7 linked regions of the Homo sapiens genome follow. The protein of the gene in region 1 interacts with the protein of each later gene in a pairwise test. Each region holds a gene or a part of one and is shown in the gene's direction. Other genes may lie near its edges.

Region 1 (4,422 bases):
GTCTGACATTGTGACATACATCTGTCTCTCCGCTTAGCTGGAAGTAGCTTGTGGGCAGGAATCAGGTGTTCTGTCTCATTCTAAGTCAGCTGTCTATTATTTATATACATGTCCTTTCCTAAGCTAGCTGGAAACTTCTCAAAGGTAGAGTTTTTGTTTGTTTGTTTGTTTTAAGTGAGACAGAGTCTTGCTTTGTCACCCAAGCTGGAGTGCTGTGGTACGATCTTGGCTGACTGCAACCTCCACCTCCTGGGTTCAGGTGACTCTTCCGCTTCAGCCTCCCGAGTAGCTGGGACTACAGGTACCTGCCACCATGCCTGGCTAATTTTTGTATTTTTAGTAGAGAGGGGGTTTCACCATGTTGGCCAGGCTGGTCTCAAACTCCTGACCTCAAGTGATCTGGCTGCCTCGGCCTCCCAAAGTGCTGGGATTATAGGTGTGAGCCACTGTGCCTGGCCTCAAAGGTAGAGTTTAAAAAAAATCTGACGTACATTTTAGCAGCTAGCTGATTGCAGGATGGCCCCCAAATATTTAATGAATGAGGAAATTCACAAAGTAGTCATCCTGCAGATAAGAAGTTTATGGTGAGAAGCACATAAAGAAACAGCAGAAGATATCAGAGAATTCTCTTAATTGAATTGTTTGACATAGTTAAAGCAGTTCTCTGATTCATAGAGTTGTTGGTAGCAAATTTCTGCACGTAAGTTCTATTGAAGACTGCTTTTTTTTTTGGAGACAGAGTCTCGCTCTGTCGCCTAGGCTGGAGTGCAGTGGCCTGATCTCAGCTCACTGCAAGCTCTGCCTCCCAGGTTCACGCCATTCTCCTGCTGCAGCCTCCCGAGTAGCTGGGAATATAGGTGCCCGCCAGCACACCTGGCTAATTTTTTGTATTTTTAGTAGAGATGGGGTTTTGCCATGTTAGCCAGGATTGTCTCAATCTCCTGACCTCGTGATCCACCTGCCTCGGCCTCCCAAAGTGCTGGGATTATAGGCGTGAGCCACCGTGCCCGGCCTCTGAAGACTGATTTTTTAAAAGTTGTTTTCTTTAAGTTACCCCAAGTAGTACAACATTGTCCTCTTGTATGCTGATTTTAGCGTATTAAAAAAAATACCATATCTTCTGAGAAGCCTCCAGTGGGAAACAAAAATACCACATCTATAACTACTATTTATAATTGACTCTTCTGAATTTTTATTTTGAGAGAAGCTAAACAGATTATTTTCTAGAGTCTTATCAGATTGGATCTATAATTTTCTGTAGCAAATTTTTTCATTTTGCATCTGTTCCAGACAGTAGGCTAAATTTAAAACTGTGGTTGGCAGCCTTTTATGCATAGTATCATAAATAATTTCAACTGTTTCTCAACTGAGAACATAATAAAAATTTTATATTTATGGAGAAAATGGGGTTTTATCTCTTTAGTTGCTTCAATTAAAAGAACTGAAAGGGTAGGGCACGGTGGCTCATGCCCATAATCCCAGCACTTTGAGAGGCCGAGGCGAGTAGATCACCTGAGGTCAAGAATTCAAGACCAGTCTGGCCAACATGGTGAAACCCCGTCTCTACTAAAATACAAAAATTAGCTGGGTGTGGTGGTGTGCGCCTGTAATCCCAGCTACTTGGGAGTCTGAGGCAGGAGAAGGCAGAGGTTGCAGTGAGCTGAGATGGTGCCACTGCACTCCAGCCTGAGTGACAGAGTGAGACTCCGTCTCGTAAAAACAAACAAACAAACAAAAAAACTGAAAGGTATGTAAAGGGAGTGAGGGAGAAAGGCCAGTCAGACCCTTCTAAACATGATCTGTATGTTGAATAATTACAGCATTTTTTCTTCTTTGCTTTGTTGTCATCCTAAAGTCCCGGTCACCCATGGGAGCTACTGCTTTTGTGCCCACAGAAGCAGCTACCCTGAAAGTCCCTCCTACCCCCTCCCATGTCCTCTTACTCCCTCCCAAAGTCTTGCCCCACTGTGAGGAGGGCTTCTCCCTGGCTCCTTGATAAGCCACTGAGAACTTTGTCCCTGCCCCCATTTCCTCTATTTCCCTGCCTTCTCTCCACTGGCAGTCCTTGGAGCCACACTGCAGGAGCGCAGCTGGAGGGAGAGCATTGGGCTGTGGTTGCCTGGTTTACAGCAGGTAGAACCGTGTTCCTCTTCATCTCAGTTAAAACTTACAACTCAGGAGGCTCCTTATAGAAATACTTTGTAAAGGGTTGTTGGGTTCTATCCTATTATACCTTTTGTTGGTTGATCTGGGAATTGAACCATCCTTTATCAAATGGATTAAATAACATTTATTTTCTGACAGTTTGGTCTTGCTCCCTCTCGTTCTTAAAATATCACTGGGGAAAATGTACATAGCCCACAAATAACCTATAACTCATTCTATATGCATAGCCCATAATTAATGTATAACCTAACTAGGTGGACTCTTTAAGAAGCAGCATTTTGGATCAGTGTCAGCTTAATTTGTCTTTCAGCTCCAGTCACTATATATCAAGTGTTTTCTCCCCACCAGGCTGATTTGAACACCAGCTTTTCTGGGGTGGATGAACATGCACCGATAAGCTATGAGGACTTTGTGAACTTTCCTGATATTCACCACTCTAATGAGGAGTATTTCAAGAAAGTAGAAGAGTTGAAGGCTGCCCACATAGAAACTATGGCAAAATTAGAGAAAATGTACCAGGATAAATTACATTTAAAGGAAGTTCAGCCAGTGGTCATCAGAGAAGACTCTCTTAGTGACTCTTCCAGGTAAGCTTGTAACTCAATGTTATTTGTGGAGTATAAAATAAAATGTATCCTTAAAAGGACAGAACAAAGTTACTTCATAATATTTTCTCTTAAATAGCCCTTTGTACTCCCAACGATATACAGAGGTAGGATTTTATTCAAAATGTTTAATGGCTTATCAGCTTACTGGATGACCGTTTGCTTGAGGGTCATTTGGTGGCCATTTGGTCTTTTCTTTCTGACCCACCCATAGAACTGAGGGCATGTATCAAAATACTTAGTCTGTGCCATTTTAACTGGTAAATATAAAAGTTTAATTTTAAAAGCTCTTTATAATATGTGGATTAACATGAGCTCATTAAAGATCTAGTACAAAGAGTTCAGGACTAGGAGACATGAATCTGATTTATGTTTTCAAAATAGTCTGCAATTTCAAGACCCATTTCTGCTGTGAACTCACCTGCTCTGAGACTTACACATCTAGTCAGTCAGCGATGCTTGCATGTCTCCTTTGTGCCAGACTATGCCTGGGCGCTGAGGAGTCAAAAACAAGATGCCCTCAAGGAGCTTAGAGACTAGCTGAGAACCAAAAATTGCATTACAGCATGATGTAACAGAGTGTTACAGAGGAAGAAGCAGTTGGTCATGCCAAGCTTTCAGAGGGATGCAGGCCAGAATTTTCCACTAAAGTGTCACATCTGAGTTCAGTCTTGGAGGAGGAATAAGTATTGGCCTTCTAGGCAGCAGAAACCATGTATGCAAAGGCAAGATGGCATGAGAAATCATATCGTGTGTGAGGAACTTCACAGGACTGGATATGAATGCAGAATGGAGACTGGGGTAGCCAGTGGTGAGGGGTAAGACTGAAAAGATAGGCGCCAGTCTCGAAGGGCTTGTAATCTAGGCTTGACTTCGTAGCAGTGAGGAATTATCAAAAAGTTTCAAGCAGGGGAATGACATGATCAGATCTATGCTTCAGGACAGTGACTCTGGAAAGTGGGGAGAATTTAATAGAGGTTAGACACAAGGACCCTCTGCCATCTCAGGTTCCTTCCCTGTAAAATGAAGGAGTCAAAGTGGATAATTTATGGGCATTGCCCAGCTCTATTCCAAATAAAAGTGATGATTCTTACAAGCCCTGTCCAGCTCCTCGCTTCTGATTATACCCTGATCTTAGAAAATATGTAACTCTTGGCTGGGCACAGTGGCTCATGCCTGTAATCTCAGCACTTTGGGAGGCGGAGGCAGGCAGATCACGAGGTCAGGAGATTGAGACCATCCTGGGTAACTTGGTAAAACCCTGTCTCTACTAAAAATGCAGAAAATTAGCTGAGCATGGTGGCACAAGCCTGTAGTCCCAGCTACTCGGGAGGCTGAGACAGGAGAATTGCTTGAACCTGGGAGGTGGAGGTTGCAGTGAGCCGATATCACACCACTGCACTCCAACCTGGGCAACAGAGTGAGACTCTGTCTCAGAAAAAAAAAGAAAATATGTAACTCTTAATTTTTATATTTGGTCACATACAACTGAAAGTATAACATAGTTATTCTTCTCATTTAGATCTGTATCAGAAAAGAACTCCTATCACCCTGTCTCATTAATGACATCATTTTCAGAGCCTGATTTAGGCCAGTCTTCCTCCTTGTATGTGTCCTCCTCTGAAGAGGAGTTACCCAACCTAGAAAAAGA
Region 2 (4,312 bases), on another chromosome or scaffold:
CTCATGCCTGTAATCTCAGCACTTTGGGAGTCGGAGGTGGGCAGATCACCTGAGGTCAGGAGTTCGAGACCCAGCCTGGCCAACATGGTGAAGCCCCACCACTACTAAAAATACAAAAATTAGCCTAGCGTGGTGACGTGCGCCTGTAGTCCCAGCTACTTGGGAGCCTGAGGCAGGGGAATCACTTGAACCTGGGAGGTGGAGGTTGTAGTGAGCTAACGCCAGTGCACTCCAGCCTGGGCGACAGAGCGAGACTCCTTCTCAAAAGAAAAAACAAAGAAAAGAGGTTTATTTGGTTCATGGATCTGCAGGCTATTCAAGAACCATGGCGCCAACATCTGCTTCTGGTGAAGGTCTCAGGGAGCTTTCAATCATGATGCGCAAGGGGAAGGAGAGCCAGTTTGTAACATAGCGGGAGAAACAGCAAGCTGAGGTTGGGGGGGTGGTGGGCAATGCCATGTTCTTTCAAACAACCAGATCTCATATGAACTACAGGGAAAACTTGCTCATTACTGCAGGGAGGGCACGAAACACCTCCCACTAGGTGCACTTCCACCATTGGGGATCATATTTCAACATGAGATTTGGAGGGGACAAGCATCCCAACTATGTGAGAGGTTTGATGACCTATTTTTGAACCTTTGCATTTTCTGAATTCAAAAAAAAAATTCCCTATCAGAAAGAAACTGAAGCACTTATTTCCCAGAAACTAAGAAATGCTAGATGATCCATGCTTCTCTACAGCTTGGTGAGCTCACTGTATTTCCACTAGAATGGAAGCCCTCTGATGGGAGGGAGTTTTATCTATTCTGTTAACCTCTGTATGCACAGAGACTAGAACAGTACCTGACACATAATAGGTGCTCAATAAACATTTGAGTGAATGAATAAGGAACCTCTGCCCCCCCTTGGGACATCCTCCTGCTCTCTTCACTGGGACATTCTACTTCTTGTGTCAACCACAGGACTCCAAGTCATTTTAGTCAGTGATTTTAGTCATTTATTTATGTATTCATTGACCATTTCTCCTCCTGGCTCCTGAAGCCCTGGAGGGTAGCTGTTCCTTTCCAACTCCAGAACTTGGCTTGGTACCTGCTGGTGAGTCTGTGCCTATCAAATGCGGAATGAACGAAGTGTTTAGAAGTGAGGATCTCCTGAGCAGCTTCTTCCTGTGACTGAGATGGTGGATGAAGGGCTCTTCTGGGACCTCTGCTTTTATTTCCATGCTTGCTAAAGCAGCCAGCACATGGCTGTACTCAAGAGAACTTCCCCATCTACATTCCCATTTTAGGGCTGTGCTGTTTACAACAGCCTCAGATCCAGGTTGCAAGGAGGGGAGGGGAAGAAAGCACCCAGCTCACAGCAGGTGTTTATGAATCCTTCCTGCCAGCTTCAGAGAATCTAATTGGTCTGGTTATGTTGTGTTTAAAAAATTAACACATTGAATTGCTAAACCCATGTTGCATTAGTGCACAAACTATAGCTCTTCTCTGAAAGCTCCTCACACAGACAAGGGCAGACTTACCTTGTTTTAAAATTAGCATATTAAAATTGCTTTTCTGAGGACCTCTAGCATCCCCTCCCTCTACAGATAACAAGTATTGATGACATACTATCATTGTTTTTTTGACTGGGGGATATGTGAGTTAACAAAGAAAAGTTCTATCGCCCAAGCTTGTAAATTAGATGATTTTGTCCTGGGGTGTGCAAATCGACTTTCTCCATCAGGCAGCGCTTTGATCAGGGGCTGCAAGGAGCCAGCCTGTGTGAGAATGGCCACCTACACAGGAGCCTTTCTCTTCTTCCCCAGTTTCTGCAGCTAAGTGGTTGCCGTGGCAAGGCCCATCTTTTCAGCTGGGGGAGATGCTAGCCTTTGCAAGTTAGCTTTCTGCTACCCCCACCCCAGCCCAAAGAAAGGAGCTAAGCAAGAGGGAGATTAGGAAGAAGGAGGTAGAACAACTGGAGAGGTGGGGGGTTGGGTGGGGGGAGCGAGATGACAGGAAAAGGACAGAAAGCTGGGCAGCAGGGGTTCTCTCTGTTTGCTGCTTTTGGCAGGCGTACTCGGTGCCTTTTTATATTCTGCACTTGATTTGGAGATGTTCCCTTTTCCCTTGATAGATCAGCTTCAGGCAGCCAAGCTCAGCAGTGTTCTGCTACTAGCCTGCAGCAGCTTTCTTCATTTTCTGTACAAAGAGAGAGGGAGGAGGGAAGGAGAAAAACGAGGGAGATCGAGGACAGTGTTGAGACACCACCACCTCAAAGGTGCGCAGTGTGCGGCCAGGAAATAAATTACCACTTCTTCTCTGATCCAGGCCGTTTGACTCCCTTTTCCCCCACTTTCTTTCCTCCCACCTCCTTTCCAATCTTATTTTTTTAAATTTTCAACTCTCTTTCTGTTTAGATTCTACTTTCTATTCCTTGAGTTGGTCTCTCCCCTCCCCACCTCAGAGGGCTGCCTTTTTTTTTTTTTTTTTTTTTTTTTTTTTTTTTTTTTTGATGGTTGACAACAGTCTTTGAAGATTTTCTACTTCAAAGTAACTACTGATGGGCTGGTTGTACTACAGAAAGAACAAGCAGGGCCTCTCGGAGTGCGACCAACTGCTCCTGCCCAAGGCAAACGCTGGTGGGGACCATGGCTCTCCATGAGGCCATGGCGCTAGCGCATAAAAGTCCCGAGCAGCCCAGGCCGCCTTGCCATCCACTCTACACCCGAACATGGGTTTGCGGTGCACAGCGCCTGGTGCGGGAAGCTCCGGCCAAGCCACCGCCCACCTAGCCTGCTGAACGTGCCTCCTCCCTTTCCTTTCCACGTCCTGTAGAGAACCCACCGCCTGCCCAAGGAGATGACCCCCGTGGAACCCGCCACCTTTGCAGCTGAGCTGATCTCGAGGCTGGAAAAGCTGAAGCTGGAGTTGGAGAGCCGCCACAGCCTGGAGGAGCGCCTGCAGCAGATCCGAGAGGTAATGCGGCCTAGGCCTTCTTCCTGCTTCCGTCCACGGCGTGAGCGCTCGTATGTGTATGCGCATGTGCATGGGGTGCGTTAGGGTGTGCGCATGTGCGTGGGTTGCATGCGCATGCGCGTGGGCTGCGTGTGGGTGTGTGCCTGGGCGTGGGCTGTGTGCGCATGTGCATGGGTTGCGTGTGGGTGTGCATATGCGTGTGGATATGTGCTTGTGTAGGCGGGCCTGTGCGTGTGCGCATGGGCGTGGCTGTGGGCGTGCACACGGGTGTGCGTGCTCCTGCGTAGGGAGCCGAATGTTGCAACCCCAGGGCCTCTGGCCCTTCTGCTTCCTGGGTCACTTCTCCTTCTGACGTCTTCCCTTTCAGGATGAAGAGAGAGAGGGCTCCGAGCTCACACTCAATTCGCGGGAGGGGGCGCCCACGCAGCACCCCCTCTCCCTACTGCCCTCCGGCAGCTACGAGGAAGACCCGCAGACGATACTGGACGATCACCTGTCCAGGGTCCTCAAGACCCCTGGCTGCCAGTCTCCAGGCGTAGGCCGCTATAGCCCCCGCTCCCGCTCCCCGGACCACCACCACCACCACCATTCGCAGTACCACTCCCTGCTCCCGCCCGGTGGCAAGCTGCCTCCCGCGGCCGCCTCGCCGGGCGCCTGCCCCCTCCTCGGGGGCAAAGGCTTTGTGACCAAGCAGACGACGAAGCATGTCCACCACCACTACATCCACCACCATGCCGTCCCCAAGACCAAGGAGGAGATCGAGGCGGAGGCCACGCAGCGGGTGCACTGCTTCTGCCCTGGGGGCAGCGAGTATTACTGCTACTCGAAATGCAAAAGCCACTCCAAGGCTCCGGAAACCATGCCCAGCGAGCAGTTTGGGTAAGTGCCGGGCGGACCGCAGTGTCCCGTGTGGGGCTTGTCTCCCAGCCAGGTCCATGGGCAGGTGTGAGGTGGGAGCCGCATTACAGGCATTTAGTTTCTAAGAGGGCGGCAGAGTGCACGGCCGGGTGAGGGTGCGGGGAGCAGGTGCATGGGTCTTTCGTGTCACCAGCCCCCCGACTTGCTGAATTGTCTGATTCTAGGAGTCCCGGAGATTTAACCGGGTCTCTGGGTTGGGTGTGGTTCTTGGTTCCCCACAGCGGCAGCAGAGGCAGTACCTTGCCCAAACGCAATGGGAAAGGCACGGAGCCGGGCCTGGCCCTGCCCGCCAGGGAAGGAGGGGCCCCCGGCGGAGCTGGGGCCCTGCAGCTTCCCCGGGAGGAAGGAGACAGGTCGCAGGATGTCTGGCAGTGGATGCTGGAGAGTGAGCGGCAGAGCAAGCCCAAGCCCCATAGGTAAACACCGCTTGCCGC
Region 3 (4,422 bases), on another chromosome or scaffold:
TTTTTAGTAGAGGCGGGGTTTCACTGTGTTAGCCAGGATGGTCTCGATCTCCTGACCTCATGATCCGCCCGCCTCTGCCTCCCAAAGTGCTGGGATTAAAGGCGTGAGCCACCGCGCCCGGCCGAAAATAGGGTTCCAGAGCGATTCTCTCCTCAGTAGAGTTTTTTGTTTGTTTTGAGACGAAGTCTTGCTCTGTCACCCAGGCTGGAGTGCAGTGGCGAGATCTTGGCCCACTGCAACCTCCTCCTCCTGGGTTGAAGCAATTCTTCTGCCTCAGCTTCGCGAGTAGCTGGGACTACAAATGCCAGCCACCACACCCGGCTAATTTTTGTATATTTAGTAGAGATGGGGTTTCGCCATTTTGGCCAGGCTGGTCTCCAACCCCTGATCTCAAGTGATCCACCAGCCTCAGCCTCCCAAAGTGCTGGGATTAAAGGTGTGAGCCACCGTGTTTGGCCGACAATACCATTTTTTTAGGGCCAGAAGCACCTAAGAGAGAGTTGAACCCTAACATCAAAAGCATATTAGGGAGGTGGAGGTTGGTCTGTTTCTCCAGAACACCCACCCCAGACTCTAGGGCCTTTGTCCTAATGGCCAGCTTCCTCTTGTGTCTCCCTAGCTAGACAGACCTCACTGTGCTGCTCAGTAGTGGGGGTAGAGCGGACTTTTCTTCCAATAGGAAGTCAGAGAATCTAACAGGAGATTCTTGGCCTTGGCACGCAGTTAAGGATCAGTTAATAGTTGTTGAATAGATCAAGGAGACGTAACAGCTAGGATCATTCTAGAACTGGAAAGATTGGCAAAAGACATGCCCATAGTTCCACATGTGAGCTCAGGGGAGCAGGGTAGATCTTCCCCTGAGATGCCCTCACCACTCAGCATCTATCTATGAAGCGTGTCCAAATTTGTCTTCTTTGAAAGTCTAGATTCTATTCTAATTTTTAAAAAATATCCAAACAGGGCCAGGTGTGGTGGCTCATGCCTGTAATCCCAGCACTTTGGGAAGCCAAGATGGATCGCCTGAGCCCAGGAGTTTGAGACCAGCCTGGGCAACAGAAAGAGACCCCCATCTCTACATTAAAAAAAAAAAAAAAAAAAAAAAAAGCAGGGCATGGTAGCCCATGCCTGTAGTCTCAGATATTAGGGATGCTGAGGAGGGAGGATTGCTTGAGCCCAGGAAGTCAAGGCTGCAGTGAGCCATGATCATGCCACTCCACTCCAGCCTGGGCAACAGAACAAGACTGTCTCAAAAACAGAAAGGAAAACCCCCCAAACCCCAAATGTTTAGTTCTGTACACATAAGAGATACTTAGCAAAAGTTTGTTGAATAGATGAACTGCTGCCTTACTTATGCATGAATACATCAAATATCTATTGAGCTTCGTTTTCAGGCACAATACTAGATCCTGGAGCTGTAATGGTGAGCAAACCAGATATGCTCTCTGCCTCGATAAAGCTTATAACCAAGTGAAGGGGAGACTTAAGTACACACACACATATAGCAAAGTACAAGGTTTTATGAGACCATTTAATAGAGGACTTCTCTTATTTTTTTTTGAGGAAGTGGAGGTACAGGCTAGAAAAGTTGACATCTGAGTGGTGAGTAGAATGAGCAGAAGTTGGGGGAAGGGGATGGGAGAATGTGCCTTGCAAAGGATTTATGGGAAAATCCTGACCCTCCCAACCCAATCCTCATTAATTCTCTAATCCTGGCCCTCAAATCCTAAATTCACTGTTGGTGTCAGTGCCTTTTACTCTCTCCACTTTTTCGTTCTGATCCCAGATGGGTACATGTGTCTAGAAACTCTGAGATGCTCCATAGATACAGAGAACTCTTAACTCATTATTTTGTAAATTAAAAAATAGAAAATATAGGCTTGTTCTGAAAATCCAAACAGCACAGATAGATATGATATGTAAAGTAAAAACCTTACCACATGTTATCCCATACCTCAGAAACAACTACTCATTATGGTTTGGGCATAGATCTTTCCAGGCCTTTTTCTATATGTTTGTCCATTTGTGTGTTATATACTATACATAAAATATTTTTTGCAAAAATTAGATCATAGCATATATTTTACAGCTCTTTTTCTTCAGTTAATATGGAAACTTCTTTGTTTTCACCATAGATCTGATACTTTCTTTTAAATGGCTGCATGATATTCTATTTAACTATCATCAGTTTATTTATTTATTATTGTTATTATTTTTCGAGACCGAGTCTCACTCTGTTGCCCAGGCTGGAGTGCAGTGGTGCGATCTTGGCTCACAGCAACCTCTGCCTCCCGGGCTCAAATGATTCTCCTGTCTCAGCCTCCCAAGTAGCTGGGATTACAGGGGCGTGCCACCACACCTGGCTTTCTTTTTTTTTTTTTTTTAGCGAAGACTGGGTTTCACCATGTTGGCCAGGCTGGTCTTGAACTCCTGACCTCAAGTGATCCACCTGCCTTGGCCTCCCAAAGTGCTGGGATTATAGGCGTGAGCCACTGCTCCCAGCCTATCATCAATTTAAACAATCCCTTATCGACTGACACTTAGATTATTATCCCGTGTTTGGTTATTATGCAGTGAACTTATATTTGAATTTGAGTTGTGAACTCTAAATGCACATTGTTTTAGGTCCAGTACTTACCACAGGTAGGTCATGGGAACTCTGAGGCTCTGTAATTTCTGAGCTCTCAGGATGAATAGGTGAAAATAGTCTGTATACATTTTTTGAGTCAGGGGATTTTTAGAAAGATTCAGGGCATCAAGAAAATACTATAAATGAAGTTAGGTCTTTAACTGTCAGGTGATTCCTTAGAAGCATGAAATACTTTTTGTTTACAGTAGACTAAGTGATTGTTTTGGTGCCAGGCCTCAAAATCTACTTTTCTATTGGACCTTACTACATAGAGTCACTCTCTTTTCCCTTCTTAGGTACTCCTTTTATTCCGTCCGGCATGATGCTACACTTCTCTGATGGGGTAGAGACAAGGTTTTCAGGACTTTGCAGACAAGAAATAAGTCTCCCTTTAATTTTGTGCCTCTAGAACATGGTAGGTTAGTTCACCTGCCCTCTTGATCATCTCAACCTTTGGACTTTGCAGGTGAGCTGCGTTCTCTACGGGAGGAGATTTCCCTGTTAGAGCATGAGAAAGAAAGCGAACTTAAGGAAATAGAACAGGAATTGCATTTGGCCCAGGCTGAGATCCAGAGTCTGCGGCAAGCAGCAGAGGATTCCGCAACTGAACATGAGAGTGACATAGCATCCCTGCAGGAGGATCTCTGCCGGATGCAGAATGAACTTGAAGACATGGAACGCATTCGGGGAGATTATGAGATGGAGATCGCCTCCCTCCGTGCAGAAATGGAAATGAAGAGCTCTGAACCATCCGGTAGTTTAGGTCTCTCAGATTACTCTGGGTTACAAGGTATGAGAGCCATCAAGTGGGTCAGTAAAGTCAAGCAGAGGAAAGGAGATAATATATAGGAAAATGGTAGAAGGTGGTGTTAGATCATGAATTGGGAATCTCTAGAAAAAACCTCCAGGTTGAATTCAAGACTGTAGGGGTCCAGGCGTGATGGCTCATGCCTGTAATCCCAGAACTTTGGGAGGCCAAGATGGGAGGATCACTCGAGCCCAGGCATTCATGAGCAGCCTGGGCAATGAAGTGAGACCCTATCTCTTTCTAAAAGAAAAATTTAAATAAAAATTTTAAAAAGACAGTAAAGGGGAAAAACCTACCCAGATGTTACATAACCAGTCCATGGTGGTGTAAGAAATAGCACCATGGAGAGGTACCCTGGGAATTCTTCAGAGAGTCATTGGGTCTTTGTTGATTTGACTATGGGAAAACCCTTCCTGGGAAAATTTCCAGCTCTAGGATGGGCAAAGAGGGACCTGTCACCTTGGGAAACTCTTCCTGCTGCCCTGGCATCATGGTGCTTTGCCTGGAATGCTTTATAGGGGGCCTCTGGCCCTGCTTCCAGGTGCAGGGATGCTAATTCTTAGGTTCCATTAGCTCTCCTCAAAATAGAAGCTTTGGGGGGCAACAAATCGGAACAAAAGACAGCTAGAGAAGAAAAGTTATTCTGAGTGATACATGAGGTACCCAAAAGCCTAGAGCCCTGCTTTCAGACAGTGAGTCTCCCAGCTAGTTGCTAGGATTCATGACATCAGAGAGTTTGCCTTTATTCTGAGGCTAGATTTATAATCTGAGTATAATGGAGGTCCTATATTTGGCCAGGTCAAGCAGAGGCAATCAACAAGGAATCAAAGAACTGCAAGTTTTTCCAGCTGTATCAAGCCTCTCAGAAGAGCCTTTAGATTAAATGGTGCTGGGAGAAGAAGGTTGGCACAGTGGGAAGGCTTGGGCTGGAGTCAAACAGACCTGAGTTCAGTATCTCAGCTCCACTAATTAGCAGGATGAACGTAGG
Region 4 (3,811 bases), on another chromosome or scaffold:
CGTGACAGTGTATAAAGCAGTTTAAAGATCTTAATAAACGAGGCCCTCATAGGCCCCTTGCTTGGGCCCACTGCATGGTGAACCATGTGCAGAAATGTCTTCCCAGCTGTGATGGTTTCACATTGTCATCGTCGTCCCCCCGGGAGGTTGGAGCATCAGGGGCCTGGACTCACTGGACTCTCCCCTCTCAGAGGTGCGGAACTATATCTGTGACGAATGTGGACAAACCTTCAAGCAGCGGAAGCACCTTCTCGTCCACCAAATGCGACATTCGGGAGCCAAGCCTTTGCAGTAAGTGTGAGTCAGGACCCCCTCCCAGGGCTGTGGCCCTCGCACCTTCTTATCTGCCTCTGTCCCCCAGGTGTGAGGTCTGTGGGTTCCAGTGCAGGCAGCGGGCATCCCTCAAGTACCACATGACCAAACACAAGGCTGAGACTGAGCTGGACTTTGCCTGTGACCAGTGTGGCCGGCGGTTTGAGAAGGCCCACAACCTCAATGTACACATGTCCATGGTGCACCCGCTGACACAGACCCAGGACAAGGCCCTGCCCCTGGAGGCGGAACCACCACCTGGGCCACCGAGCCCCTCTGTGACCACAGAGGGCCAGGCGGTGAAGCCCGAACCCACCTGAGGACGGCAGTGAGGATGAGCACCTCTAGCAGCCTGGACTCCGCAGTGGCTGTGTCAGCCTCACCCTTCGTGTGCACCCGCATGGGAGGGTCGGAGGGTGCTGCCCGCCCTTGGTGCTGGAGGCGGGCTTGGTGTCCGGCTCAAGTAGCCTTCCTCTGCTCTGGGACCAGTGGTTTATTTTCCCGCAAACGCTGAGTGACTCGGGGCCGGACAGTTCATAAATAATTGATTCCTTTCCCCACTAAAGCAGTCGAGGAGATTTGTAATCCACTTTTTAGTGCAACAAGAGCTCCATGTTATGCTTGTAATAAATTATTTACACGGGAGCTGGGCTGGTGTGCAGTGGCAGGTCCCGTCAGAAGAGATGAGGCTCCTGGGACAGGTCAGCGTCAGGGGCAGCCTGCTGTCTGCTCTGGAGGGCGGCGCTCACCTCTGGGTCGCAGTCCCCACGATCAGCCAGCAGCTGTGAGAGAGGAGCAGGTCCTCAGCCCATGCCGCCCACTAGGCCTCAGACCACAGGGGAGGGGCTCTGGCAGAAATAGTCGAGTTGTATTGCCAGCCAGGCAGGCACATGGCCCAGGCAGCTGTCAATTCTCATGTCCCCCACATGGCCCAAGGTGGGCATCTTGACGTTACCTCTGCCACGTGTGAGAAGCTCTTTTTCGGGCACCGAGGTATTAACTGCAGCAGAAAAAGACGAGCTTTTGTTATCAGTTCCACGGGGTTGCCCTAGAGAGAAAACAGGCAAACTCACAGGTTAGAAGACATACAGAAACAGGGCTGGTGTGTCCCCCATAGTCTGCATGCTGTGCCGGAACATTCTTTGGCAGAAGGAGCCTCCGGCTGGGGGGAGCTCCCCTGGAGGTGGGACTGGCCCTTGCACCTGCCTGACCCTTGAGCTCCAGGCTCCTGCCAGCTGGAGGTGAAACTGTGCTTGTATCCCCAGCCACGAAGAGCTGGACCAGCTTCAAGTACATGTCCACAGCAACATGCAGGAAGGCCTCTTCCCTGATGGCCGCGTCTTCATGGAAGTAGGAGAGAAGACTAGAGGTAAAGACATAGTGACAAATGGCTACAGACTGCTGGAAAGGTAGCAGGTGATGCCAAGGGATACTGCTCATCTGTGGAGCAGAGGCACAGACAACCCTTCCCATCTGGCGGGACCCAGAGGTGCTGAGATGGGGGTCTGGGAAACACTGCCCAGCCCTGACCAGCCCTGTGGGTGGAGGTACCTGTAAAAAGCGAAAGGCAGCAGCCTGGTGTGCTGATCCGGGGCCACACGGAGGAGGAGCCGCCCCAGCCTGAGGTCTGCAACACCAAGAAGTGGCTCAGGCAACTCTGGACATCTCTGCCTATTATCAGTGCTGGGGACACCCCTGGGGGTCGGGACGTGTACCCTGGGAGGCCTGGCTGTGGGGATAGTGTGGGGCGAACAGCCTGAGCTGAGGATACCCAGGTACCTGTCAGCAGCTGGGAGAGGATGGGGGGGTCGACCTCTTGCAGGAGGGTGGGTGTGGTGCAGAGAGAGGCAGTCCCCATGATAGGCCCATTGGTCCTGGGGTTGACCAGTGAGCCAGTAAATTATCTTATTGCTTTAAACAAGTTTGTGCTTAATCTGTCCCAACTAAAATGGAGCTTATAAACTTACTTAGCAAGGAACCTCAAGGAGGGCTCGTTCTTAACCATTTGCAAGATGCCTCTGAAAAGAGCGGCCCTCCGCATTTGTGCCTCAGCAGCGTGTTTCTTACCACTCTCTGTCAACTGAAAGAGTGCCAGCCAGGATATCTTCCTCTTCTCTAAACACTCGAGGATTGCTGCACAAACGTGGAAAGCCTTTGGCAGGTCTGTGGTGCTCTGTAAACCGCAGGAGACCAACCCTGAGAATGGCCGACCTGGTGCTCCCATGGGTAGGAGGGTACAGCCCTCAGCACAGAAGAGGGCATTTCCTCTTTGCTTATTGTAAGTCTTAAAACTGGTGACAGTTTTACCTATAGAAGGTAATACTGGGCCTCTGGACAGAAGAGGCTCAGGTAGGAGGCCAGGGACTTCGAGCACCCACACCAAGGCTGCTGCACCACGTCCTCAAATAAGACATTAAAAGAAAGGCCCACAGGCCGGATGCAGTGGCTCATGCCTGTAATCCCAACACTTTGGGAGGCCGAGGTCGGCGGATCACTGAGGCCAGTTCAAGACCAGCCTGGCAATATGGTGAAACCCCGTCTCTACTAAAAATACAAAAATTAGCCGGGTGTGACAGACTCACGCCTGTAATCCCAGCTACTCGGGAGGCTGATGCAGGAGAATTGCTTGAACCCAGGAGGCTGAGGTTGCAGTGAGCTGAGATCACACCACTGCACTCCAGCCTGGGTGACAGAGTGAGACCCCCATCTCAAAAAAAAAAAAAAAAAACCCACGGCCTGGGAGTTCTCACTCACACTTCCGCAAACACAAGGAGCTCCTGAGCTAGTCTGGAAACCCTGACTTGGAAGCTGGCTGCCTGGTGCCCCTGCCTGGCCCACAGTGGGAGAGGACACCTTGGCTGGTAAGGTCTGACTTACATTTGAGGTCAGATGTGACGACAGCAGGCCCATCAAGGAGAAGAAGAAAAGGAAAACCAATAGCTGTAAATAAAAACGTGCACTTATTATTACATTAAAATTACCTGTGCTGTCATTCTAAATAAGGCTGACACATTCCTCTTTAATTGAAATTTTTTACATCTAGGCCATAAATCCTTTAAGTGGATCTTAGAAAACTTTCCAATCACTTCTAGAGAGACAGCTTAATTGAGAATTAATTACTACTGGCTGGGTCATTTCACACTTGCCTTTAAACAAAGCTAGAAACAGTTTGAAAAAGTGACAAGAGCCAGAAAGAGAAGACTGCTGCGGTCTCCTTGGCTGTGCGCAGTCCCAACTCAGCATCATCTCCCTGCAAGGCCTCCTGTCAGAAGTGTTTGTAAAATCCTTGAAGATAAGCCCACAGGCTCCAGCCTAAAGTAGGGCCTGACTGGGCAGGGTCTCTGTGGACACTCCTCGCTGCACACTAGGGTCCTAAGGCCCTGGAGCCACTAAAATCCCTTCTAACAAAACTACACAAGAAACCTGAAGACGTACTCAGAAGAACCCCTGCAGGGTGGTTATAATCACCAAAACCCTGGGCGCTGCTGTCGATCCAGCT
Region 5 (5,186 bases), on another chromosome or scaffold:
GAAGAGATTGGCACACCTTTATCCCATGTGCATACAACAGAACAGACCCCAGTGGCCAGAGCATTCTTGTTATCCTGGAAGATGCACCTGCAGCCCTCAAGCCTCCAGCCTCCCCCTCCCAACCTAAGGCACACCCTGTTTGTCAAGTGCCTATACCAACACCTGGCAGCCCCTCCACAGAGGCCTCAGAAAGGCAGGTGATAGCTAGTGACTAGGTTTCTTTCATCCCCAGATCTTGCCCTGTGGGCAGTGGCCATCCCCAGACCATCCAGGATTCTCCAGGTGTGCAAGGACCTACAGGATTTTGACAAATGCCAGCAGAGTGGCCTCTTTACAAATGGATGACAACAGGCTGTGAAAAGCTTTCTGCATGCGTAACCCAAAAATCTAGTTCCCCCACTTGTTCACTGATGCTTAAAATTGCTTTAGGGAGAGACAAAGGCTTTCATCTCACAAACAGAGAAAGCTTTGAAGGGCCTGGGTGAACTAATCTATTTAGACTAATACACACTGTTGTATAAATGGAATGAAGGATTAGATGATGCAATGGGCCCCTTTAAAATAGGTGTGAAGTGACACGGGATGTAGCAGAGAAAGATGGGGCTTTTCTTGCCTCCTTGGGTGCTTAAAACGAACAGTCTTGAGACCAGGTGCGGTAGCTCAAACCTGTAATCCCAATACTTTGGGAGACCAAGGCAGGTGGATCACTTGAGCCCAGGGATTCAAGACCAGCCTGGGCAACATGGCAAAACCCCGTTTATAAAAATATAAAAATTAGCCTGTCATCGTGGCAAGCACCTGCAGTCTCAGCTACTTGGGAGGCTGAGGTGGGAGGATTGCTTAGACCTAGGAGATTGAGGCTGCAGTGAGTCATGATTACCCCATTGCACTCCAGCCTGGGCAACAGAGCAAGACCCTGTCTCAAAACACACACACACACACACACACACACACACACACACACACACACACACACACAGTCTTGAAACCGGAAGACCTGGAGTAAAGTTGGGCCCTGAGCCCTACTGCCAGCTGTTCGATCACAGGCAAAATTACTCGAAGCCTTGAGCCTGTTTTTTATTTCCAAAGCGAAGGTAATACCTACCTTCAGAGTTTACTGTGAAACTTTGATGTCATCATGTTTGTAAAAGTGCCCTGGCACAGTGACCACATTCTACCCTATAAATATTTTCTATCTTTCCCTGTTGTCCCCAGGCATCTCAGGCTCTGTTCCTATCCACTCCATGCCCCTTTCTTAGCATTATAAGGTCAAGAGTGAGGAATCTGGGACCACGCAACCCAGATTCAGATCCTGACTCTGTCACTTGCTGACTGTCATCTTGGACAAGTTTAACCTCTCTGTGCTCAGTTCCCTCATCTGTAAAAATGGGGATAACAATAGTACTTGCCTCATGGGGTGACAGTAAGGATGAAATGAGTTCATGTGTGTAATGCACTTAGAACAATTCCTGGCACCAAAAACTCATTGTAAGAAGTGTTGTTACTATGATTCCTGAGGAATTCTCACCTGTCCACTTTCCACAAGCCGAAAGATCAAGCTCCACTTCTGCCCTCTCACCTACAAAAGCGCACCGTCAATGGCTACACATTCCGCCCCACCCCCAACGCCCCCAGCCCGGGTTTCCTAACGTCCCCAGCCCAGTCCTTAACCCTCCAGGCCGTCTGGTCCTTCCACCACCAGCAAAGCCCAAAACAGCTTTCAGCGTCCCCTAGCAGCGCCCTAGCGGGACCCTGGGAACCCGCCGCTGCAGGAGAGGCGGGGCGGCTCTGTGACGTCGCGCCCGGCGCTACCCCTGGTGACCTGGCAGCGGAGCCCGCGCAGGGTTTGCCAGGCGAAGGCGGAGCGCTAACGTCTAACGCTAACGGCGGTCGTGCCCCGCCGCTGCTGTCACCCCCGGCCGCTGCTGCCCTCCCCGCCGAGGTTCTACTGCTCTCCTTCTTAAGAAGGGTGGGAGGCACTCGGTCTCTCCCCACACCTCTCGCCTGAGGCCAGGCGCCAGGTGTCGCCTGAAGCCAGACAGCCGGTTTGGGAGCGAGCCTGAGGTAGCCACCCCGAGGGGAAGTGGAGGGAGGGCAGGGCTCTGAGCGCCCCGAGGGCTGCGCTGGTCTGAGGGAGGAGCCCTGCCGGACGCCCCCTGGATTCTGAGCCTCTCCTTGTTCACAGGGCAAGGGGAAGGCAAGGGGATCTTCAAGAGAATGTGACTGTGGGGGATTATGGCTTTCTGGCCAATTTGTGTGCGTATTTTGTACCCAGAATACTATTATACGGTTTCTTACCCGGAGGACAGTGGTTGGGAGGCTCAAGAGTTTGGAATCAGAGCCCTCCACCGAGGAGCCACACCTCTGCTTTTTCATCAGCGACAGGGATATAAAAATACCTCTGGGTGAATTGTCATGTGGATGTCATGGGCATACCTAGCACTTCATAGACTCCTATCACACATTATTTTATACCTAGCACTTCATAGACTCCTGTCAGGCATTATTTTATACCTGGCACTTCATAGACTCCTATCACATATTATTTTATACCTAGCACTTCATAGACTCCTATCACGCATTATTTTATACCTAGCACTTCATAGACTCCTATCACGTGTTCATTTTATAGCTAGCACTTCATAGACTGCTATCACGCATTCATTTTTACTAGTACCTATTGAACACTAAGTTCCAGGCACTGGGCTAGGCACTGGGATGGTGTGGTGAGCAAAAACTGACCAGTCCTGCCGTGGAGTTTGCTGGGGGAGACACATGTTACTCAAAGAATCACACTAAGGATAGGTAAGTGATGCTCTGGAAGGGTATGTACAATGGAACTGACAGGGTAATCAGGGAAGGTTAAGCAGACCTCCAAAGGAAGAATCAACCTGTTAAGAGGAGGAGAATGTATTCCAAACAAGAGTAACCACATCCCAAACCCACCATCTCCAATTCCAAACCCAAACAGGGATGTGCAGTTGCCTGTGCTTGGTTCCAAGTGATACTCATAGAAACCCTCTGAGATTCTGCCCTGGAGCCTTTCATTCATGTTACTGGAGACTTTCATTTATGAAACGGAAGCCCTGTTTAGCCCATACCAATAAAACCAAGTGAGAGATCCCTGAAACAAGGCTATAGTCTATTTTAAGACCTACATTCTTCAGCACTTGGCAGGTATATGTTGGCCTCCATTTTACATTGAGAGGCATGTAGGTTTCACTTAGGAGGAAATGCATTGAATTGAAAGAGTTGGGGTTATGGATAAGCTCTGGAATGTATAATTGAAGAAGACCTACACTATCAAGAGATTTAAAAATGGAAAATAACTTTACAAAATGTTAGAATTGAGGAATGTTAAGATAGAATGGACCTTTCTCCCACTTCTTTGATGTGAACAAATGACCCTTATTGCCCAAAGGCAGGAAAGCTGGGCTTTGGTGCCTCTTCAACTCAGAGAGTCTATGATTTCAACTCTGTGATTCAAAAGTGCATGGAACTCCTGAAAGTAAATGGGAACATGGGGGGATAATTTGACCTGACCCTCCTTTAGTGTTTTCTATTTCTACAAGGGTACCACCACTGTGCACCCAGTCATCCAAGCTTGAAAACTGATAGTCACTCTAGACTTTTCTGTCCTTCACCTCTTCCTCCTTCTCCACCTTCTCTTCTTCCTCCTCCTCCACCTCCTCTTTTCTTCCTCCTCCTCCTCCTTCAGTAGTTACCAAATCCTGTAGATCCTATCTCCTAAATACTTGTCTCTTATATCACTCCCTATTGCAACTACTTTTCAAGGCAGTGAAGCTCCTGGGAGTTGTCAAAAGTGCTGCCATATTCTCCTAACCTGGCTCCCTGCCTGAAGCTTCACCATCCTCTCTTCAGCTCATCCACACAGCTGTCAGTCAACGTGTTTCAGAGTCCAACAAAGAGAAATAAATCATATAGTAATTTTTTGAGCATATAATTTAACAAGAGAAGTTCAATATAAAGAATTGTTAATGATGGGATTGGAGTAATGAAGGATTGGCTAATATGTCAGGAGAGATCTAAAATATACAGGAATCACAGATATAAGGGGCAACCACTACCCCTGAGATAGATCACCCAAGGAAGAAACCTTTCCCAGAGCTTGGTGCATAGGGGATGGCCACAGCTGACTGGAGAGCAGAGAAATTGCTGAGGTGCCAGGCAGGCAAAATTTACTCTCTGAAACACCAGAGAAGCCATTCACTAAAAGGTAACTCACTGACAGCACTCTGCTATAGAGCTTCCCAAGAGAGGTGCCAGGGGACACTGCTAGCCATGGAGCACTGATAGCCACTGTGTACTCCAGCAGTTGGGCACTCAAAAGATCACACACTGCATGAAACAGATGCTAGAAAAGCTGTGTGCTACAGGATCCCAGCATAGGAGAAACTACAAGTTCCTGGAGCCTAGCAAGAAGAGCATACCTAAATTCCTAAGAGAAACCTCTTCCTCCTCCAGTCCTTCCAGTGCCCTGTCCTAACAAAGCATATCCTTATGACAGCTGACAAGGGAAAAAATGTTAAAGGACCTAGTTCAATTTTTGTGGAGGAGGCAATACAAGGTGAATTTGGAGCTGAGAGGCAAATATTGATAACCGGACCTAAAGCTAACACTGATTGTGTGACTCTTGTGCTTAAATTTTCTAGTGGTTCCCCATTGCCTTCAACAAAAAGTTCAAAAGCCCAAGCCTTGAGCTATATTTCCAGCCTTAGGCCCAACCACTCCTGCTTTGTCCACTTTAGAGCTCCATAATTACAGTTCCCTGAACTTGTCACGTTTCTGACAACCCCACATCTTTGCCTAAGTCCTTCTACCTACATGAAATTCTCTCCTTACTCTCATAAGTACACATATGCTTACTGAATACCTGCCCTGTACCCGGCTGTCTTCTGAGGGCTTGCAGTACAGCAATGAACAAACCAGGTTTTTCCAAGTCTCAGTTCAGATATCTCAGATATCACCACTCTTTGAAAAGTATTTTCTGACCTCCTTCTAATACCTGCAGATGTTAGATGCCTCATCCAAGAGTTTTTCTTCTGTTTTTCTTCTGTTCTTCTATATCTAGTGCAGGCTTCTTGACACTTATTATACCTTCTTTGAGTCACTGATTTTCCTGTCACTCTCTTCCACTGGACTGTGAGCTCCATGAAGCAGAGTGT
Region 6 (4,422 bases), on another chromosome or scaffold:
TCAGTTTAAGTTGCCTTTGTCCTTCATTACAGTTCCTAGTAATGTCAGAATGAGTTAGTGTTTCAGCAGTACCTAAATTTGACTGCTTAAATGCACTCAAGTGTATTACCATTAGCAATATCATGGACTTGATATTAAAAAATATGAACTGCAAGTGACCTGGTCAAAACATTGCAGTATAATCTCTGCTGTTGAGTTTTCAAATGGAAACAAAGACTGTATGTTGTGGTAAAAATAATATATTAGCCCAGAAAGTCTCTGTGGTTGATAATAATTACATATACATGTATTGCTGGCAAAACTCAGCAGATTAGAGTAGAATGGGCAGTACTGAACTTATTTCCTTCAAATCCTGGAGGTCTGGGATAGAGGTGCATCTTCCTCTCTACCACTTCTGCCTGGGTTTCTAATTACAGTTAGCCCTCTGTATCTGCTGATTCATTCAAATGTGGATGGAAAATATTTGAGAAAAAAAAGAAATAGCACACAAAAAAATACAAATTAAACTGTACAATTTAACTACTATTTATATAGCATGTACATTGTTTTAGGTATTATAAATAATCTAGAAATGACCCACTAGTAGGCCCACTATACATTTGGTATATAATGTGTCTGTTTGACTTCCCCATAAAATATACATTTGTTGGGAAATTCTAGATTTGAAGGAGGTAAATATTTGGGTTCTTAATATAATGAGATGAAAATACATTACAAATTATTAGAAAGGATAGAGGCAATTTCAAATATTGTTATTAAAAATATTGAAGTAGTTTGTTTAGAGTTTTATATATTTGAAAATAAATTTGTCATGGATGTAGCTGAAAGTAAAAGGTTTTGTTGGCCGCTTGCGGTGGCTCACACCTGTAATCCCAGCATTTTGGGAGGCCAAAGCAGGTGGATCACAAGGTCAGGAGTTCAAAACCAGTCTGGCCAACATGATGAAACGGCCGTCTCTACTAAAACTACAAAAAAAATTAGCCAGGTGTGGCGGCGGGCACCTGTAATCCCAGCTACTCGGGAGGCTGAGGCAGAGAATTGCTTGACCTAGGAGGTGGAGGTTGCAGTGAGCTGAGATCAAACCGCTGCACTCCAGCCTGGGTGGCAGAGCGAGACTCTGTCTCAAAAAAAAAAAAAAAAAAAAGTTTTGTTTGCATATTTAGAATCACAGAAATATAACATATAAGGTTGTTGGACAACACCTCATAAAATTAAATCAATACCAATTTTATTCTTTCATAGATGGAGCCAGACATTCTTTTATGTTTGAGGGTACAACACTGAACAAAATAAAACAAAAATCATTACCCTCTTGGTGCCTACATTTTAGTGAGATGAGATCAGGTCATGAATAAGGAAAATATATGTTCAATGATTTTTTTTTTTTTTTTTGAGTCAGAGTCTCGGTCTGTTGCCCAGGCTGGAGTGCAGTGGTGCCATCTCAGCTCACTGCAAGCTCCGCCTTCTGGGTTCACACCATTCTCCTGCCTCAACCTCTGGAGTAGCTGGGACTACAGGCACCCGCCACCATGCCCGGCTAATTTTTTTTTTTTACATTTTTAGTAGAGACAGGGTTTCACCGTGTTAGCCAGGATGATCTCGATTTTCTGACCTCGTGATATGCCCACCTCGGCCTCCCAAAGTGCTGGGATTACAGACGTGAGCCACTGCACCTGGCCTATGTTCAATGATATTGGTGCTGTGGAGAAAAAATAAAGCAGGAAAGAGGCAGATAGTAGCGGGAGGTAGGTAGGTTGTGGGAAGAGAGAGTTTTGCAATTTCAAGTACCTATATGGTTAGGAAGTGAAAGCTTCAATCAGAAGGTGACATGACATGACATATGACATAAGTCCTAAAGTGAGCCATGAAGATATTTGAGGAAAGAGCTTCCTGGGTAGAAGAAATCATACCTGCAGAAGCTATAAGGTAGGAGCTTGCATAGCTTGTTAACAATTATAAGAAAGCCAGGAATGAGTGAGAGGAATAGTAGCAAGTGAGATCAGAGATGTAACAAGTTACAGGGATCAGATCTTGAGCATTGCAGGCTGTTGTTAATACTTTGGCTTTTAATCTAAATTAGAAATGACATAACTATTAAAATGATCATTCTAACCACTGTGTGAAAAAATAGGCTGTTAAGGGAACATGCACAGAAGTGACAGAGAGCAGTTAGGAGCTTATTGCAATAATCCTGGGAGAGGAAAAGTTGAGTTGGATCAAGGTGACAGTTGAAAACAGTGTGTTATAATCATAGCCTTTCTAAATTTCTCCTTTTGAAATTCAAAATAGTTCTTTTTGTCTTAAATTTCTTCTACTTTTTAAATAGTAGGGCTTCTTGGGATATTTTATGAATACACTGTAGAAGAATAAATAATGTCTTTGTGTTTGCATGATTGACTTGCCCTCAGTGTTTGTTCTTCAAAGCTAAAGTCTATCTTGAAATTATTTACTCTTCAGAATTGTCAGTTCCTCAGTAATGACCAAACTGGAGCACTTAAGTTTTTGTTTACAAAAGGAAAGGAACCTAATAGTAGAGTATATATTGCAGGGTAACCCACTTGAGAGTGGATAAAAGTTTCATGGAACAAGACCTTCCAAGATTTTTATAAGATGTGTAGTTGTGAATATATAAAGGTGAACTTTTAGAGAATATTAATTTTGCTACATTTAATTCAATTACTTTGCTTTCTAACTTTGTTTTTAATTCAATTACTTTGCTTTCTAACTTTGTTTTTAAAAGTTAGTTACAAATTCCCAGGTCAAAAGAAATTATGAATTATAAGAGGTATACAGAACAGAAGCAGCATTTGGATGCCGGATAATATTATTGTATTTTCCTTCATGTTCTCCTGCGTAGTTTCTGATGAAGAACAATCAGTAGTATACGTTCCAGGTATGATTTTCTATGTTAAAATTTGGGAAGCTTACTTTGGTCCTTAAATGTTAGAAGAAAATAAAGCTATTAGAACAATGTTGCGGGTATAAATAACTGAATGCAGAGCAGTACATCAAAACCTAAAATTTGTTTTTTTTGAATATTTGTCATAACCCTATTAAGGTTTGAAATACTGGCTTATCTTTGGGATTGGCTGGCCCAATCAGCTTTTAATGAACTTGTAGAACACTTCATGTGGCAAGGGGCAAAAGATTCTTTTCTTATTTTTTCTTTTACAAATGATAGCCAAATTTAATATTTCAAATAAAAGTGTGACTACTGCTTGATACAGGGTATATGTAAGAGGCACTTCAAGTTTAATGGTTGTAACTAGATGGTAGTAAAGCAACTATTGAAGGCACCCTCATTATATAGGGTGAAAAATATCATTGATTTCCCCTAAGTTAACATATATTTGGCATATCGTAATTTATTGGTTTTAATGTGACTTATGAATATTTACAGTACCCTTTACAAATATTTCAGTTAAGCTGGATGTGGTTGCTTGATCCTGTAGTTCCAGCTACTCCAGAGGCTGAGGTGGGAGGATTGCTTGAGCCCAGGAGTTCAAGTCCAGCCTGGATAGACATAGGAAGACCCTGTCTCTTTAAAAAAATAAATATAAAAACAAATTTCAATTCAATCTTTAGTGTATTTCTTTAAAACATATTCTTTTTATGATTCATATATTAAGAGCTTTAAAATTAAGTTTATAAAGTAAGAGAGTTTCCTCCATCAGGTCCCTTAAAGTAGAGGATTCCAAGGAAGGAGTTGATGGGGGAGGGTTTAAGATAATAAGGTATAATTTTGAAATCTTGTTTAATGGAAATCCTTAGGAATTTCTGCTGAAGGAAATGTCAGATCAAGACACAAGCTGATGAGTCCAAAAGCTGATGTTAAACTTAAGACTTCCAGGGTGACTGATGCTTCAATCTCCATGGAGTCCTTAAAAGGCACAGGAGATTCAGTAGATGAACAGGTTAGTATTTTTTTCGTCTTTTTTTTTCCTTGCTCTCCAGTCTTTATGAGTGCTGACCAAAAAGGGTAGAAGAACCTTTGAAAGTATACTAGGTGATCAACAAACATTCTTAAAAGATACAGAGGATTCCAGGATCCTTTGATGATGCCAGGTTTGAGCCTAAATTATCTGGATTACTCAAGGGTTTTGCTCCAAAACATCTGACTTGCTGTAAGCATTAGCCATGATAATGTATTATCTTGATATGTCTCAAAAGAACTACATTCTGATCTGTGTGGCATTGGTAAATCAAACTGATGAGAATTGCTTTTTAATTAGGCATCCTTTTTGATTTTTATTCTTGTGAATTTATTTGATAGATGAACCCTCGTAAAGATGAGGGACAAATCAATGACTAGGCATAGTAATAGTATCGGTGCATTCCTTTGGCACATGTCCTATCTGACCAGTTTATTTTACTTTAATTTTTGTTATATTTTCCCTCTGCAACCAGAGTTGTTCAATACCA
Region 7 (4,422 bases), on another chromosome or scaffold:
ATTTAGGAAACACTTAAAAGTATTTGGTCCCATAAATAATTTTTTAAAAATTGTTTTAAACACTTTTTGTGGTAAATTGGAAGCTAATCTACTGTTTCTTTGCCCAGGCTGATACCCATACTTTACCAGACTGCTTAGTAGACAGTATTACTGTGTTTACCTAACATTAATTTGTGTTAAGATTAATAAAATGGTTCAGTGGTAATGGAATGTTCTTTATAGATTTGGCAGAAGTGATATTTCTGTTTCCCCCCTACTCTAACTGGATTGTAATGTTTTATTTTAGCGTATTTTATATGAAATCATCTGGTCCAATTTTTACGTTATTAATAATTCTTAATGGATATAAGGAAGACTTGGCTATGAGAATCTGAAATCAAAATGTTGCCAACGTTTACTTACACTGAAGATGGTTTCAGTTGCTCTAAGTTGTTTCAAAGCTAAAGAGCAGTATGGAAAGCTCAGCATTTGTTTTGATTCTGCTTTAAGAATGCAGTGTAAAGGGCAGGAGGAGCTCAACACCAGCTGGAAGCACATCCCTGTCTCCTTGGTTTCTGCAGAGTCAGGATGAACGCAGGACCGGAACCAGGGGCTCAGTGTCTCTTGTTACGTCTGGTTTCTCATACTAGATTATTGATCTTCGATCCAATTCATGCAGCCTAATAGTTCCTCTAAATCTCACCAGAGCCTGGAGCCTGCACTGATGGTAAGGTAAATGTCTAGGCAGTTCTAGTTCTGGAAGGAAAATTTTTAAAGGGAAAGGAAAAAACTTATTTTCCTTACTCTTATAGGACATTTAAATGATGCATCAGGATCCAGGAAGCACAGAGAAACACTTAAAAGATTTTGGAGTGATTGCTACGGTTTGTGTTTTTTGAAGAAAATGAGAATTAAATGCTTTTCTATCTTGATGCTTGTTTTAGGGGTTGTAGAAGGTGATTTAGCTGCCATAGAAGCATACAAGTCATCAGGAGGAGACATTGCACGTCAGCTCACCGCAGATGAAGTACGCTTGCTGAATCGTCCTTCTGCCTTTGATGTTGGCTATACTCTTGTACACTTGGCTATACGTTTTCAGAGGCAGGATATGCTAGCAATATTGCTTACAGAGGTAAGTTTGGCGTTTTGGTTAAATGTTCTTTTATATTAAAGAAACCTGTTCTTTAGTTTTCATTTTTGATTTTATAATGTTTCTCTAAGCAGCTTTAAAATGTTTTGAATTCTTTTACCCCCTTTTAAAAATAACATTAAACTTAAGAGACTTAATTTTTAAGGGTATATGCTTTCAAATATTTGAATAGTCACAACAATGTTTGACTCATCATGTTTGGTTCATACAAACCTGGGATGTATCTGTCATTCTTTAGTCATTCAATTAACAGATATTTATTGTGCATTTACTGTGTGCCATGCACTAGGCTGAGAAGGGATACAATTGTAAAGATACTGGCTCTTTCTTCATTAAATCTCCAGCAAAGTAGAGAAATGAACAGGTAATTCTGTGCAGCCTGTGCCCTGGTAGATGTAAATGCCAAGTGTTATGCCAGTACTTGAAGAGTTTTGAGGTGTCTTGTCGTCTTTCTTATAGCAGGTAATGTTTTTGCTGCAATTTGAAGAGAAAGAGTTAGGAGTTAGCCACATGAAGTGGATAAGGGAGAGAAGGGAAGTTGAGGAAAGCATTTTTACAGGGGGCAGAGATGGTGGAATTTGTGGTGAATCTAGGGACTTGCAGGTAACTAAGCATGGCTGAGATGGTGATTGGGAATGGAGAGAAGGGAAGTCTGAAAGATAAGCAGAGGCTGGATTACGAAGGATCTTCTGTGTCAAGGAATTTGAAGATTATCCCTAGGCACTGGATGGTGTTAGGTATGGGCGCAGGGGAGTGAGCAGAGCAGATTGTGTTTTGGCTGCTGCACACTGGAGAGGGGTGAGCCTGGTTAGGAGGGAGTTGCAGAGGTGCTGGCAAGAACTTCTGCCAGAAGGGCAGAAGGGTAGCCATAGAAGGGTACCCAGAAGGGTAGCCTTAGAAATGGGAAGAGGGTTAGAGGGTTGGAGAGACTGAGACAGGCCCTCAGTCTGAAGAAGTAGACTGATTGGATATGGGAAGATACAGTGTGGATGTAAGTTGATTCTTCAGTTTCTGGCTTACATAACTAGGTACATGCTACCAATGATAGAGATTGTGTATGAATTATTCAGAATGTGACTACATTATCCAGGTTTTTTTTTTCTTTCTTTTTTTTTTTAAGCTGGAGTCTCACTCTGTTGCCCAGGCTGTAGTATAGTGGCACGATCTTGGCTTACTGCAGCCTCTGCCTCCTGGGTTCAAGCGAGTCTCCTTTGTCAGCCTCCTAAGTAACTGGGATTGTAGGCACATGCCACCATGCCTGGCTAATTTTGTATTTTTAGAAAGGTGGGGTTTCACCATGTTGGCTAGGCTGGTCTTGAACTCCTGACCTCAAGTGATCTGCCCGCCTCGGCCCCCCAAAGTGCTGGGATTATAGGCATGAGCCACCGTGTCTGGCCAAGGTAACATTTTTTAATGGTAAGAGAAATAGAGTAAAAGTGCAGAGAGTCATATTAATTGTGGATTCAAATTTTGTCAGTATACATCTTTCATATATACTTTTGCATATTTGTTTATTCAAATTTGCCAATATTTGGGAACCACTGCAGGGCACTGTATGGGGATTAAAAAATTTGAAGGTTAGATGGAAACATGATTGTAGTAGCTAACCCCTGTGTCCAGTTTGGTAAGATTCCAGTGAAGCCGGGGTGGGGGGCTTGAGAGACTGAAGGCCATGATGAAAACAAAAGGGCAGGCTTATTGAGTATAAGGGAGAAGGGAACTTTTCAGATAGAGGGATCCAGGTTTTGGAACATGAGATAGAAGAATTGGAGTTTTTCTAGTGTCGAAGGCCTGGCTGCATTTGTGTTGTGGTGCCTAGTTGTGTTGTCTATTGTATATTGGAAGGGCTGTCAATGTGGAGTTGTAGTTGCTGGTGGTGACAGGAGCCAGGATAAAGAAGGTGGTTGTGAACTAGGGTGAAAGTCTTAAGGGGCTCCCCTAAAGGTAGGTAGAAGATTATTACAAGGTTTTAGAGGGGCCATTGTGAGTCATTGAGCTCCTGAGACAGTCTGAGGAGTAACAGTGGGATGATGATCGAACATCAGTATATTTATTGCAGTATCACAGATTGTCTGGAAACTTAGCAGCTAAGACAACAAATGTATGTTATCTCACAGAGTTTGTGAGGGTTAGAATCCAGGAGCTGCTTAGCTGAATAGTTTTGGCTCATGATGTCATGAGGTTGCAGTCAAGTGGTCCAGGGCTGTAGTTGTCAAAAGACTCAACTGGGGCTAGAGTATCTGTTCCTAAGCCCACTCAGGTGGCTTTTGGCAGGAGGCTTCAATACTGTGCCATGCAGGCCTGTCTACAGGGATGCTCATGATACAGCAGCTGGTTTTACCCCCAACAAGTGATCCAAGAGAGGCACAGAGTACAAGAGAGTGATCCAGTGTCTTTGAAACCTGCAGTGTCTTTTATAAATTGATTTAGGAAGCAACATACCATTACTTTTGCTGTATTCCGTGGGACGTGTAGAACAACCCTGGAACAGCGTGGGAGAGGTGGAGGGGATTTGTTCCAGGCAAAGAGCAAAATTGGTCATGGATTCAGTCTCCATGGAGTAAATACTCCAAAGGACAGAATTAAAGGGGCCAGTAGGGAGACTGGAAGTGGGGGAGTCTGGACTAAGTCTAGACTAAGGGGGTGTGTTGCAGAGAATGCTCAGCCAAGTTCTTTTGGAATGAGAACAGGAGAACATTAGAGTTGGGGATATGTATGTGGGGCAGGAATTTTCATCGGTTTCTGTGTCATGGACCATGTTGGTAGTTTCATGAAACTTATGGACTCCTTCCCAGAATACTGTTTTTAAATACAAAAAATAAGAAGTAAATGAGATTACAAAGGAAATCAGTTGTATTGAAGTAATAGCTACCAAAATACTAAACTAAATTTGTGATATATAAGAAAATACATTTTAATATAGGTAAAAAGTTGGGGATAATTGATTTAACTTGAATTAAAACCAAATTCCCATTAAAGTACATGGACCATTCCCAAGATCATGGACCCTAAGTTAAGAACTCCCAGCCTACGGAGATGGTTGAGAACCATAAGGTTGAAGGAGGTGAGAAGGTGAGTGGCAGGCTTCAGGGGCACATCCTGCTTAAGGATGGTGGTGGAAGGGGTTGTTTGGGGGCTAAGTTTCTTTTAGAATGTTTGTGGTAGTCAGGGTCCAGTCCAGGTGGTTTTTGGAAAGGTCTTTCCAGGTTTTTGGAAAGGGCCTGAGAGCTAGCTGATGGGAATAAGCTATTTTTGAATTTACTTTGGGGGAGCCATTTTAACTATGTTACTTG

The links.
Region 2: the proteins of FAM161A (region 1) and AXIN2 interact in binary tests that used the Homo sapiens proteins (3 or more experiments, as listed by UniProt).
Region 3: the proteins of FAM161A (region 1) and CCDC136 interact in binary tests that used the Homo sapiens proteins (3 or more experiments, as listed by UniProt).
Region 4: the proteins of FAM161A (region 1) and ZNF276 interact in binary tests that used the Homo sapiens proteins (3 or more experiments, as listed by UniProt).
Region 5: the proteins of FAM161A (region 1) and ROPN1 interact in binary tests that used the Homo sapiens proteins (3 or more experiments, as listed by UniProt).
Region 6: the proteins of FAM161A (region 1) and KIAA1328 interact in binary tests that used the Homo sapiens proteins (3 or more experiments, as listed by UniProt).
Region 7: the proteins of FAM161A (region 1) and ZRANB1 interact in binary tests that used the Homo sapiens proteins (3 or more experiments, as listed by UniProt).

The regions. Positions count from the first base shown.
Region 1 is NC_000002.12:61,840,453-61,844,874, reverse strand, and holds part of FAM161A (protein FAM161A), read left to right. Parts: intron 1-2,514; coding exon 2,515-2,753; intron 2,754-4,293; coding exon 4,294-4,422. UniProt on the Homo sapiens protein: Involved in ciliogenesis.
Region 2 is NC_000017.11:65,536,851-65,541,162, reverse strand, and holds part of AXIN2 (axin-2), read left to right. Parts: intron 1-2,819; coding exon 2,820-2,960; intron 2,961-3,327; coding exon 3,328-3,839; intron 3,840-4,099; coding exon 4,100-4,294; intron 4,295-4,312. UniProt on the Homo sapiens protein: Inhibitor of the Wnt signaling pathway. Down-regulates beta-catenin. Probably facilitate the phosphorylation of beta-catenin and APC by GSK3B.
Region 3 is NC_000007.14:128,798,094-128,802,515, forward strand, and holds part of CCDC136 (coiled-coil domain-containing protein 136), read left to right. Parts: intron 1-3,092; coding exon 3,093-3,416; intron 3,417-4,422. UniProt on the Homo sapiens protein: May play a role in acrosome formation in spermatogenesis and in fertilization.
Region 4 is NC_000016.10:89,737,615-89,741,425, forward strand, and holds the end of ZNF276 (zinc finger protein 276), read left to right. Parts: exon of another isoform or gene 1-106; coding exon of another isoform or gene 107-191; coding exon 192-291; exon of another isoform or gene 292-361; coding exon 362-632; 3' UTR 633-986; coding exon of another isoform or gene 987-1,094; 3' UTR 1,095-1,267; coding exon of another isoform or gene 1,268-1,360; 3' UTR 1,361-1,514; coding exon of another isoform or gene 1,515-1,675; 3' UTR 1,676-1,863; coding exon of another isoform or gene 1,864-1,939; 3' UTR 1,940-2,379; coding exon of another isoform or gene 2,380-2,485; 3' UTR 2,486-3,189; coding exon of another isoform or gene 3,190-3,252; 3' UTR 3,253-3,311; downstream 3,312-3,811. Other genes in the region: FANCA (Fanconi anemia group A protein), read right to left, coding at 987-1,094, 1,268-1,360, 1,519-1,675, 1,864-1,939, 2,380-2,485, 3,190-3,252. UniProt on the Homo sapiens protein: May be involved in transcriptional regulation.
Region 5 is NC_000003.12:123,988,800-123,993,985, reverse strand, and holds the start of ROPN1 (ropporin-1A), read left to right. Parts: upstream 1-1,861; 5' UTR 1,862-2,064; intron 2,065-2,627; exon of another isoform or gene 2,628-2,805; intron 2,806-5,186. UniProt on the Homo sapiens protein: Important for male fertility. With ROPN1L, involved in fibrous sheath integrity and sperm motility, plays a role in PKA-dependent signaling processes required for spermatozoa capacitation.
Region 6 is NC_000018.10:36,831,463-36,835,884, forward strand, and holds part of KIAA1328 (protein hinderin), read left to right. Parts: exon of another isoform or gene 1-1,926; intron 1,927-2,740; exon of another isoform or gene 2,741-2,811; coding exon of another isoform or gene 2,812-2,857; coding exon 2,858-2,893; intron 2,894-3,771; coding exon 3,772-3,914; intron 3,915-4,422. UniProt on the Homo sapiens protein: Competes with SMC1 for binding to SMC3. May affect the availability of SMC3 to engage in the formation of multimeric protein complexes.
Region 7 is NC_000010.11:124,965,671-124,970,092, forward strand, and holds part of ZRANB1 (ubiquitin thioesterase ZRANB1), read left to right. Parts: intron 1-923; coding exon 924-1,111; intron 1,112-4,422. UniProt on the Homo sapiens protein: Ubiquitin thioesterase, which specifically hydrolyzes 'Lys-29'-linked and 'Lys-33'-linked diubiquitin. Also cleaves 'Lys-63'-linked chains, but with 40-fold less efficiency compared to 'Lys-29'-linked ones.